3 separate regions of the Homo sapiens genome follow, and all the other regions are linked to region 3. The links come from fine-mapping of genetic effects on plasma protein levels. A gene starts in region 3. Each other region holds a variant in brackets. All regions are shown on one strand. Distances are from middle to middle.

Region 1 (2,500 bases), 37 kb before region 3:
CTATGCACTTAAAAATGGTTAAGATGGTATGTGCATTTTTACCACAATAAAAATAATAAATGAATAAAGAACAAAGGAAGTAATTAGCTATCAAACCACAACAAGGCACGGAGAAACCTTAAATGCATATTGCTTAGTGAAAGAAGCCAGTCTGAAAAGGCTGCCTACTATATGATTCCAACTATGCATATGATACTTGGGAAAAGACAAGCTCACAGAGATAGTAAAAAGATCAGTGGTAGCCAGAGATTTGTGGAGAGGAAAAAGGATGAATAGAAGAATACAGTGAATTCTTAGAGCAGGAAAACTTCTATATGATATTGTAATGATGGATAGATCAGGCCTGCAGGGGGAGTAGATGAGGTCAGTCTTTTGCAAACCTGGTTCCTTCTTGCCACGCCCCGCCCACAGCCCCACTGTGTGTGAACCAAGAGAGTTGGAAGGCCTTCTGCAGACGGACCCATTCCACCTGAATCTCCATGACATATTGGACTTCTCCATATAATTTCATTTGGAAAGAAACTTGAGCATCTAAATAAAATGTTTGGAAACCACCATGCTACAAGACCAGCATGTGCTGTCTAGTTCTTACCCTCTGCAACAGTAAGATTCTGGGGCATTAAGACTTAGTTCCAGGATTCTGTCATTCTGCCAACGTTCTGTGGCTGGGGTTCTAAAGGAGCTTGCCTGGCTTAGAACTGCAAGTGACTCTAGTGTGATGGAGAGCACCAGCAAAGCCTTAGGGCCCATCCCTGGCCTCCTGTTACCCACAGAGGGGTAGGCCCTTGGCTCTCTTCCACTATGACGTCAGCTTCCATTCTTCCTTTCTTATAGACAATTTTCCATTTCAAGGAAATCAGAGCCCTTAATAGTTCAGTGAGGTCACTTTGCTGAGCACAATCCCATACCCTTCAGCCTCTGCTCCACAGAGCCTAAGCAAAAG[A/G]TAGAAACTCACAACTTCCTTGTTTTGTTATCTGGAAATTATCCCAGGATCTGGTGCTTACTCAGCATATTCAAGGAAGGTCTTACTTCATTCTTCCTTGATTGTGACCATGCCCAGGCTCTCTGCTCCCTATAAAAGGCAGGCAGAGCCACCGAGGAGCAGAGAGGTTGAGAACAACCCAGAAACCTTCACCTCTCATGCTGAAGCTCACACCCTTGCCCTCCAAGATGAAGGTTTCTGCAGCGCTTCTGTGCCTGCTGCTCATGGCAGCCACTTTCAGCCCTCAGGGACTTGCTCAGCCAGGTAAGACCTCTCCCTTTTTAAGGGGAGACCAAAAGAGGAATTAAGAAGAGCCATTATGTCACAGCTCATTAGGAACAAAACCAGAACTAAAGGCTCAGGTCACTGAGGCTGGTTCCCTTGATCTTTCCTGACCCCAGTTTTGGGAGGAGACAGTGGAGCCGCTACAGCAACAACCCTCCCATTGTTTGGGGAAATAATCCAGAACGAAGAACTGTTTCTCACTGTGGGTGTAAAGGACATTTCAGGCCGTAGTGGAGAGGGAGAAACTATTGCCTGAAGCTTCAAATTTTGGTTATGGTTCAGTGTACCTTCCAGAACAGTGGCTGTGTAAAGAGGATGAGGACCCAGAGGAATCTCAGCGTATGGCATAGGCTAACTCTAAAGCCCATGAGGATGAAAGACTGGGAAGCAAGGTATTGGAACTTATGTTCCCAGTGTCAGAAGTTTTGGGTTAGTAGACAAGGACTAGCTTGTTACTCAAAATGTTTCCAAACCCAGTCAACAATGACGGGCCGCAGAGTTCAATAGAGGAAAGAGACTCACAGGCAACATTTTATCTCTGGGATCTGGACTAAGACACTGAACTTGGGATGGTGACTTCTTGGTCTTCTCCTTCCTTCTCTTCTTTTCCTTACAAATGCACACTTACGGTGGGTCCTAAATGTCTCATTCTTTGCAAAATTTCTTTCAGATTCAGTTTCCATTCCAATCACCTGCTGCTTTAACGTGATCAATAGGAAAATTCCTATCCAGAGGCTGGAGAGCTACACAAGAATCACCAACATCCAATGTCCCAAGGAAGCTGTGATGTGAGTGGACAGTGCCTGGCACCCCCATTCAAAAGTTCTGATGGACAACATAGAGAAGTCAAGATTCATGTCCATATGAGTCGGATGCATATAACTTCTATCCAAAGGGCCCCTCTACCCCATAGAGAAACTCAGTCCATGAGAAGGAGTCCATAACTGCTCTAGGATTCCCTTCTAGGGGCTTGGTGAAACTAACCCAATATCTGTAGCCAGGACCCTGGAGGGTTTCACCTGGACAGCAAGAGCAGAGCTTCCTTCTGGAGCTTCTTCCTCCCACTCTTCCCCTCCCTCCTCTCCCGGGTCCGGGTCCTTCACCTAAGGACCAAGGGCTGATCAGTTCTAGGGACCAATGGCCCACAGTCCTGTGCAGGATCTTCAAAGTCTTCCATCTAATTGTGCCCTCTCTCCCCCACAGCTTCAAGACCAAACGGGGCAAGGAGGTCTG
Region 2 (2,849 bases), 110 kb before region 3:
AGTTTTGATATGAGCACGGGATGGGCATGGAGAGAATTCTTATCTCACAGCCTCTGCCTTCACTGGGGAGGAGGCTGTCTCCTGAGAATGTTGAAGCCTGAGACAGGAGCCCAAGATGCTAGGGGAAGGGTGAAGGTGTGGAATGCCACTGTGGAGTATGGCAGCGCCAAAGAACTAGGGGCACATTGCGGAACAGCAGCAGCACTGAGGAGTCTGTCGCATCTGTGGACCTCTTGTCCTTAAAGATATCCAGGCCTTCCAGCAAGCCCAACAGCCTGGGAGTGGTCAGGAATCAGGGGGAAGATGATCCGATGACCTGGGTTTGGGCACTGGCAGGTGTGGAGATAGAATTGTAGAAATGAGAGCATCTGTATGCTGGTAGGAGAGTGGTCAACACTGGGCTGGACTGGGGAGGAAAGGAAGCCAGGTAGGGGCTAAGGGACCTGGAGGAGCTGATGCAGTAGATTCAGAGTTGCTGAAGGGGAAGGAAATAGAAGGCTGTGGTCAAAGGACTGGATTACTAAGTGGAACATTACAAAATGGAGAAGTTCAGGGAGATGACGAAGTCCAAAGGGTGGCCATGCAGCAAGGCTGATATGAAGTGGTGATAAGTTCACTTGAAGAGGGACCCAGAGGAAACTAGAGAACTTACATTCCCTAAATATTTCCTTCCCTTAACCTTCTGCTCCTTACCAAGCCTTCCATTTACAGCATGGGTGCAGGTGACCTTGAAAGGGGAGCCTTAGAATGAAAGGAAAAGAAAATAAGCAGGAGAAGAAAAGGCACGGATTTCAAGGAAAAAAACACTTGGATGGTAGATCATACAGAAGATTGGGCTTGGAGTGAGAACACGTGAATTTAAATCCCAACCCCTCCAGTCCCCAGCTCCCTTGTCCTTGGGCAAGTCAACCTCGAAGGCTTCATTTCTCTGTCTATAAAACAAGGAAATGACACCAGTGTCACCTACATAGCAATGGCTTTGTGGGAATCCCATGATTTAATGAATCATAGAGGACACATAAGGGGTTGTGGTTTTTGGCATCTCATGACCCACAATTTTAAAATCTTTCCTTGTTAACTGCACAGGTGTTCTAGAAGATATTCAGTAA[G/A]TATTTAAAATTAATGTTTATTGTCATGAAATCAGAATTGCATAATGACAAGGCTAATGCCATAATTTTGGAATGTAAATACATCCTAACTGCATTGGGAGCAGAACATGGGACAAATGTGGGCTAAGGACATGCTAGAGCAGCGAACTAGCCATAATAAATAAATATTTGTGTGTCACTTGCATAGTCCTTTTTGTCACCTCGGGGTACAAATAGTTCACATCTCTCTCATTATGTTCATTTAATTCCCAGGCCTCCAGGTTGTCCATATTAGGAGGAAGTCTAGTAATTCATGGTTAAGCCCCCTCCCAACATCCTTACAGTGTCCCCAGAACCTTGAGGACCTATTCAGTCAAGCTGAGAAAGCTTTGCTGCTAAGTTTCAAGCAAAGTGGAAGCTGGGTAACCTGACCCTCTTACCAGTGGCCAGGACTCCTGACTGCCATTGCTTCTGTCACTGTCCCCAGGGTACCTATGGATCCCTGGCCTCACACCACCTAAAGATTTTCCTGTTCCTTGCTCTCATGGTACCTCCTCCAGCCTTGGCCACAGTGTCATCCTTGGGCCCCCTAGGTTTCAGCCTCTTGAGTTTGCACTTGCAGGTTTGGCTGTTGCTCTCAAAGCAGGACTATTGCATCAACATGGCAGGTGCAGAGGTCTTCCCGCCTCAATCGTCACCCACTGATTTCTCTGCCATGGCCTTGAACTCAGGCGACCAATCCAGTTGGAACCTCCCCACACTCTCCGTGGCTAATAATTTTGGACTCAGAAGAAAAAGCCTCAATTTCTCTCCTCTCAGGAGGTCTCTTGGTCCTTGAGCAAATGTATCCATTTCTTCTCCTATCTCCAGTCTTTGGGCCCCCAAAGGTTTTTTTCTCCCTTTCTCCAGGACAATGAGTGCCTATTTACAAGTGCCTGTTTCTACTTGAATAAGGTTTCTATAAACTAAGAAGTGTTCCTTAGGGACACAAGTAACTGGCACTCCTGTTGGAAAATGCTAAGATCTAGGTCACGCGCACTTCCCCCAACAGACACATACACACATTCACACACACACACACACACACACACACACACACACATACAGCTTGTCTGCACTCTAGCACTGGCACTGACGCTAACGCTATAATCCTGGGCAACTTTATTTCCCCATCTTACATTAAGCAGTGGTGCAGGGATTTTCAACTCTGGGATCTCTATCACACCTCCCAGCTCTGATTGCTTCCTAATTTACATATTTATTGAGCATCTGATGCTAGGTCCTCATGCTGGTGATGCAGGAGTAAACTAGACAGACAAAAGTCCGTGCCCCACATTGTCTGACACCTACACACCTGCTGTTCGGACTCCATTACAAACAGCTCCAAGGGGAACAGTGCACTTGTAAAGTTTCTCTCATTACCATGGCCACATCCGTGAGCAATAAATAAGTTGCATAGTTGAATTATTTGATAATGCTTTGTTTTTAACTCCCTGCACTTAAGTCAGAGATGTGTGTGCTTTGGAAAACTATTTTTCCTGACTCATTAGACAAATACTATTTGCATTTTTATTCAGCTTCCTTCCTCAGACTCTAATTTACAGTAAAGGCAAGAGGATTTTTGAATGGAGCCAGTGCTTTGCAATGTGGGGCTCCACCAGCTAGCCGACTGAAATCATTAATAAAGAAGCCTTTTTAAGTGGCTGAAGTTTCCCCTTTTTGGCATGCAACATTTTGCAACCAAGCGGAAGAAACATCATC
Region 3 (2,791 bases):
ATTTATTTGTGCACCCTGGTCAGTTAGATTTTTAAGAAATTCATCCATTTCCTCTAAACTAAATTTTTGGCATAAGGTTCTTATCATTTTCTTTTTGGTGTCTGCAGGCTCTGCAACTGGTTATATGTACCTTTTTCCTTTTTTCTTTTCTTTTTTTTTTTTTCTGGGACAGAGTCCTACTCTGTCACTCAGACTGGGGTGCAGTGGTGCAATCTTGGCTCACTGTAACCTCGGCCTCCCAGGTTCAAGCAATTCTCCTGCCTCAGCCTCCCAAGTAGCTGGGATTACAGGCATGTGCCACCATGCCTGGGTAATTTTTGTATTTTTTTTAGTAAAGACAGGGTTTTACCATGTTGTCCAGGCTGCTCTAGAACTCTTGACCTCAAGTGATCCCCCCGCCTCAGCCCCTTTTTTCTTTTTTTTTTCATTTTCAGTTCAGGAGAGTTTTAGCTTAATTATAGGCTACAGAACCAGCTTTGGGCTTCATCTATCCTTTCTAATATTTACTGTTTCCTATTTCTCTAATCCTAGCTCTTTATTTCTTCCCTTTACTTTCACTGGGCTTATTTTGCTATAGTGGAATGCAGAGGGATGAGTATTCCAGGAAGGCACAAAAACTGTGCCAAGTCTTGGAGCTAGGGATGAGTGGGAAAGGGACATGTTCAACCATTTTAAGCCATTCCCTCCCCACCTCCCAGCTCCCAGATATGTGCCCCTCGCAGGAGGAGCCCAGGAATGGGCCAAACACCTCACTTCTTTGCTCTGAGGGCCACCCCAGCCCTCCCATCAACAGCTCTAGAAACCCAATGGTCCTTCCTGGAAACACGGGGCCTGCATCAATCAGAGGTGTTTGAACCATGTCCCTCTGGGCCTGAGGGGCAGAAGGGGACACAATATGTAATGTAAGGAGCCCCTGTCATCAGAAATCTGACTTAATCTGTTTCAGATATTAGACTTCCACATAAAAGTTGACTTGGAAAAAGACTTCTGCTGCTAAACAAAAGTTGAAACTGCCTTGGTGATAAAATATAAGCAGACCAGCTTTCTCTTCTAGCTTTCCCTCTCATTTCCCATAAGATTTTGGTCAAGTTATTTAATCTCTCTGCATCCGTTTCCTCTTCTATGAAATGGGCATGATAATAATGGTATGTACCTCCTCAAACTAAATATATAACGTGAACAGAGTCCTTAGCACAGCACTCTTTCTCTACAGGAGTTAATTTTCATTGTTTTTCTCTTTCCTGTTGGAGAAAGTAAGAAGAAAACAGCTCCTTTATGGCTTCCCATGGTGAATGGCTGGGGCGCGTCTGTGTCCCTTTCTCCTCTCTGGCTCCTTGTGGCCTGAACAGCCAGAAGGAAGCCATGCCATGCTGTTTCAGCCCTCAGCTTCCCTCTTGCATTTCCTAGAAAAGTCTTTGGTGCCCAGCTCCAGCTCAGCAGATTCAGGATCCCCCTTCATCATGACTTGGTCAACGCCCTGCTCAGGCCAAGGTCCTCTGAGAGTTCCAAGCTTCTCCACTCCCTATAAAAGGCCGGCGGAACAGCCAGAGGAGCAGAGAGGCAAAGAAACATTGTGAAATCTCCAACTCTTAACCTTCAACATGAAAGTCTCTGCAGTGCTTCTGTGCCTGCTGCTCATGACAGCAGCTTTCAACCCCCAGGGACTTGCTCAGCCAGGTAAGTCACCTCCCTTCGACTCTCCCTCTCTTTCCCTCTGTTTCTCTATTCAAGGAAGACCTAAGCCCGAGTGCTCCTCCACTTTTTTTTTAGATTGAGTCTCATTATGTTGCCCAGGCTGAAGTGCAGGGGTGCGATCTTGGCTCATTGCAACCTTCACCTCCCAGGTTCAAGCGATTCTCTTGCCTCAGCCTTCTGAGTAGCTGTGATTACAGGCACCCGCCATCACGTGCAGCTAATTTTTGTATTTTTAGTAGAGAAGGGGTTTCACTATGTTGGCCAGGCTGGTCTCAAACTCTTGACCTCAAGTGATCCTCCCGTCTCGGCCTCCCAAAGTGCTGGGATTACAGGCGTGAGCCACCAGGCCCAGCCAAGTGCCCCACTTCTAAGCCCACCAGAATAGTAAGGCTCCTCAGAGGTTCACTTTAACATCTAATTTTAAAGATAGAAAGCTGAAGCCCATGTTGGAGGCAGAAGGGACCCTAGCCATCCACCTCCAGGTTATTGCAGAGCAAGAATGAAACCTAAGCTTCTGACTCCAGATTTAGGGCCTTTTCTTTGACCTCATCTGATCGTCCCAAACTCTGCAGATCTGGGACCACACCCAGGACCTTTCCCACTGGCCTTGCCCGTGGCCTCCCCTAGATGGCTGTGACATGTCTCCACCATGCAGCTGAGCCTTTGAGATCCTGAGGCACATGTCACAGGTCCCACCTCACCTCAGGGTCTAGGGTGGGAGTGCTGGGCTTGGGGGTGAGTAAGATCTATTTCTTCCTCTTTGCTTTGCATCCCATACAGATGCTCCCTGCTGTATTCAAGCTGAGAAAAGCCTAACACATCCTCAAAGTCTTTTTCTTTGTAACTATTTCTAGATGCACTCAACGTCCCATCTACTTGCTGCTTCACATTTAGCAGTAAGAAGATCTCCTTGCAGAGGCTGAAGAGCTATGTGATCACCACCAGCAGGTGTCCCCAGAAGGCTGTCATGTGGGTAGAAAAATCCCTGCTCACCTGGCTCCTCCCCACTCCCACATTCCCCAATCCAAAGTTCTGCCCCAGGAGACAGACGTCAGACTGACTTGAGATCTTAGGATGAGATCTAGCCAGACTGTGT

Direction of the effects. Alleles are on the strand shown, and positions count from the first base shown. The strength of an association depends on the size of the effect and on how common the allele is.
As copies of G replace A in region 1, the plasma level of the protein whose gene starts at base 1,555 in region 3 goes up (weak association).
For the plasma level of the protein whose gene starts at base 1,555 in region 3, A is the high allele of the variant in region 2 and G is the other (strong association).

The links. A credible set is the group of variants that fine-mapping cannot tell apart. PIP is the posterior inclusion probability: the model's chance that the variant is causal. Protein levels are from antibody-based Olink assays in UK Biobank. Linkage for the fine-mapping came from a reference panel and not from the study's own genotypes, which makes the PIPs less certain.
Region 1: its variant is the best candidate, but not a certain one, in a credible set for the plasma level of the CCL13 protein (UK Biobank, PIP 0.81).
Region 2: its variant is the best candidate, but not a certain one, in a credible set for the plasma level of the CCL13 protein (UK Biobank, PIP 0.53).

Annotation. Positions count from the first base shown.
Region 1 is chr17:34,318,332-34,320,831 of GRCh38, forward strand. CCL8 (C-C motif chemokine ligand 8) reads left to right here and starts at 1,104. Exons shown (of 3, transcript NM_005623.3): 1 at 1,104-1,246; 2 at 1,938-2,055; 3 at 2,471-2,500. The coding sequence starts at 1,171. The variant A/G (reference allele first, on the strand shown) is at 944.
Region 2 is chr17:34,246,117-34,248,965 of GRCh38, forward strand. No RefSeq gene overlaps it. Among named protein-coding and RNA genes, the nearest start is that of CCL2, 7.7 kb to the right of the region's middle. The variant G/A (reference allele first, on the strand shown) is at 1,110.
Region 3 is chr17:34,354,926-34,357,716 of GRCh38, forward strand. It overlaps CCL13 (C-C motif chemokine ligand 13), which reads left to right and starts at 1,555. Exons shown (of 3, transcript NM_005408.3): 1 at 1,555-1,677; 2 at 2,550-2,664. The coding sequence starts at 1,602.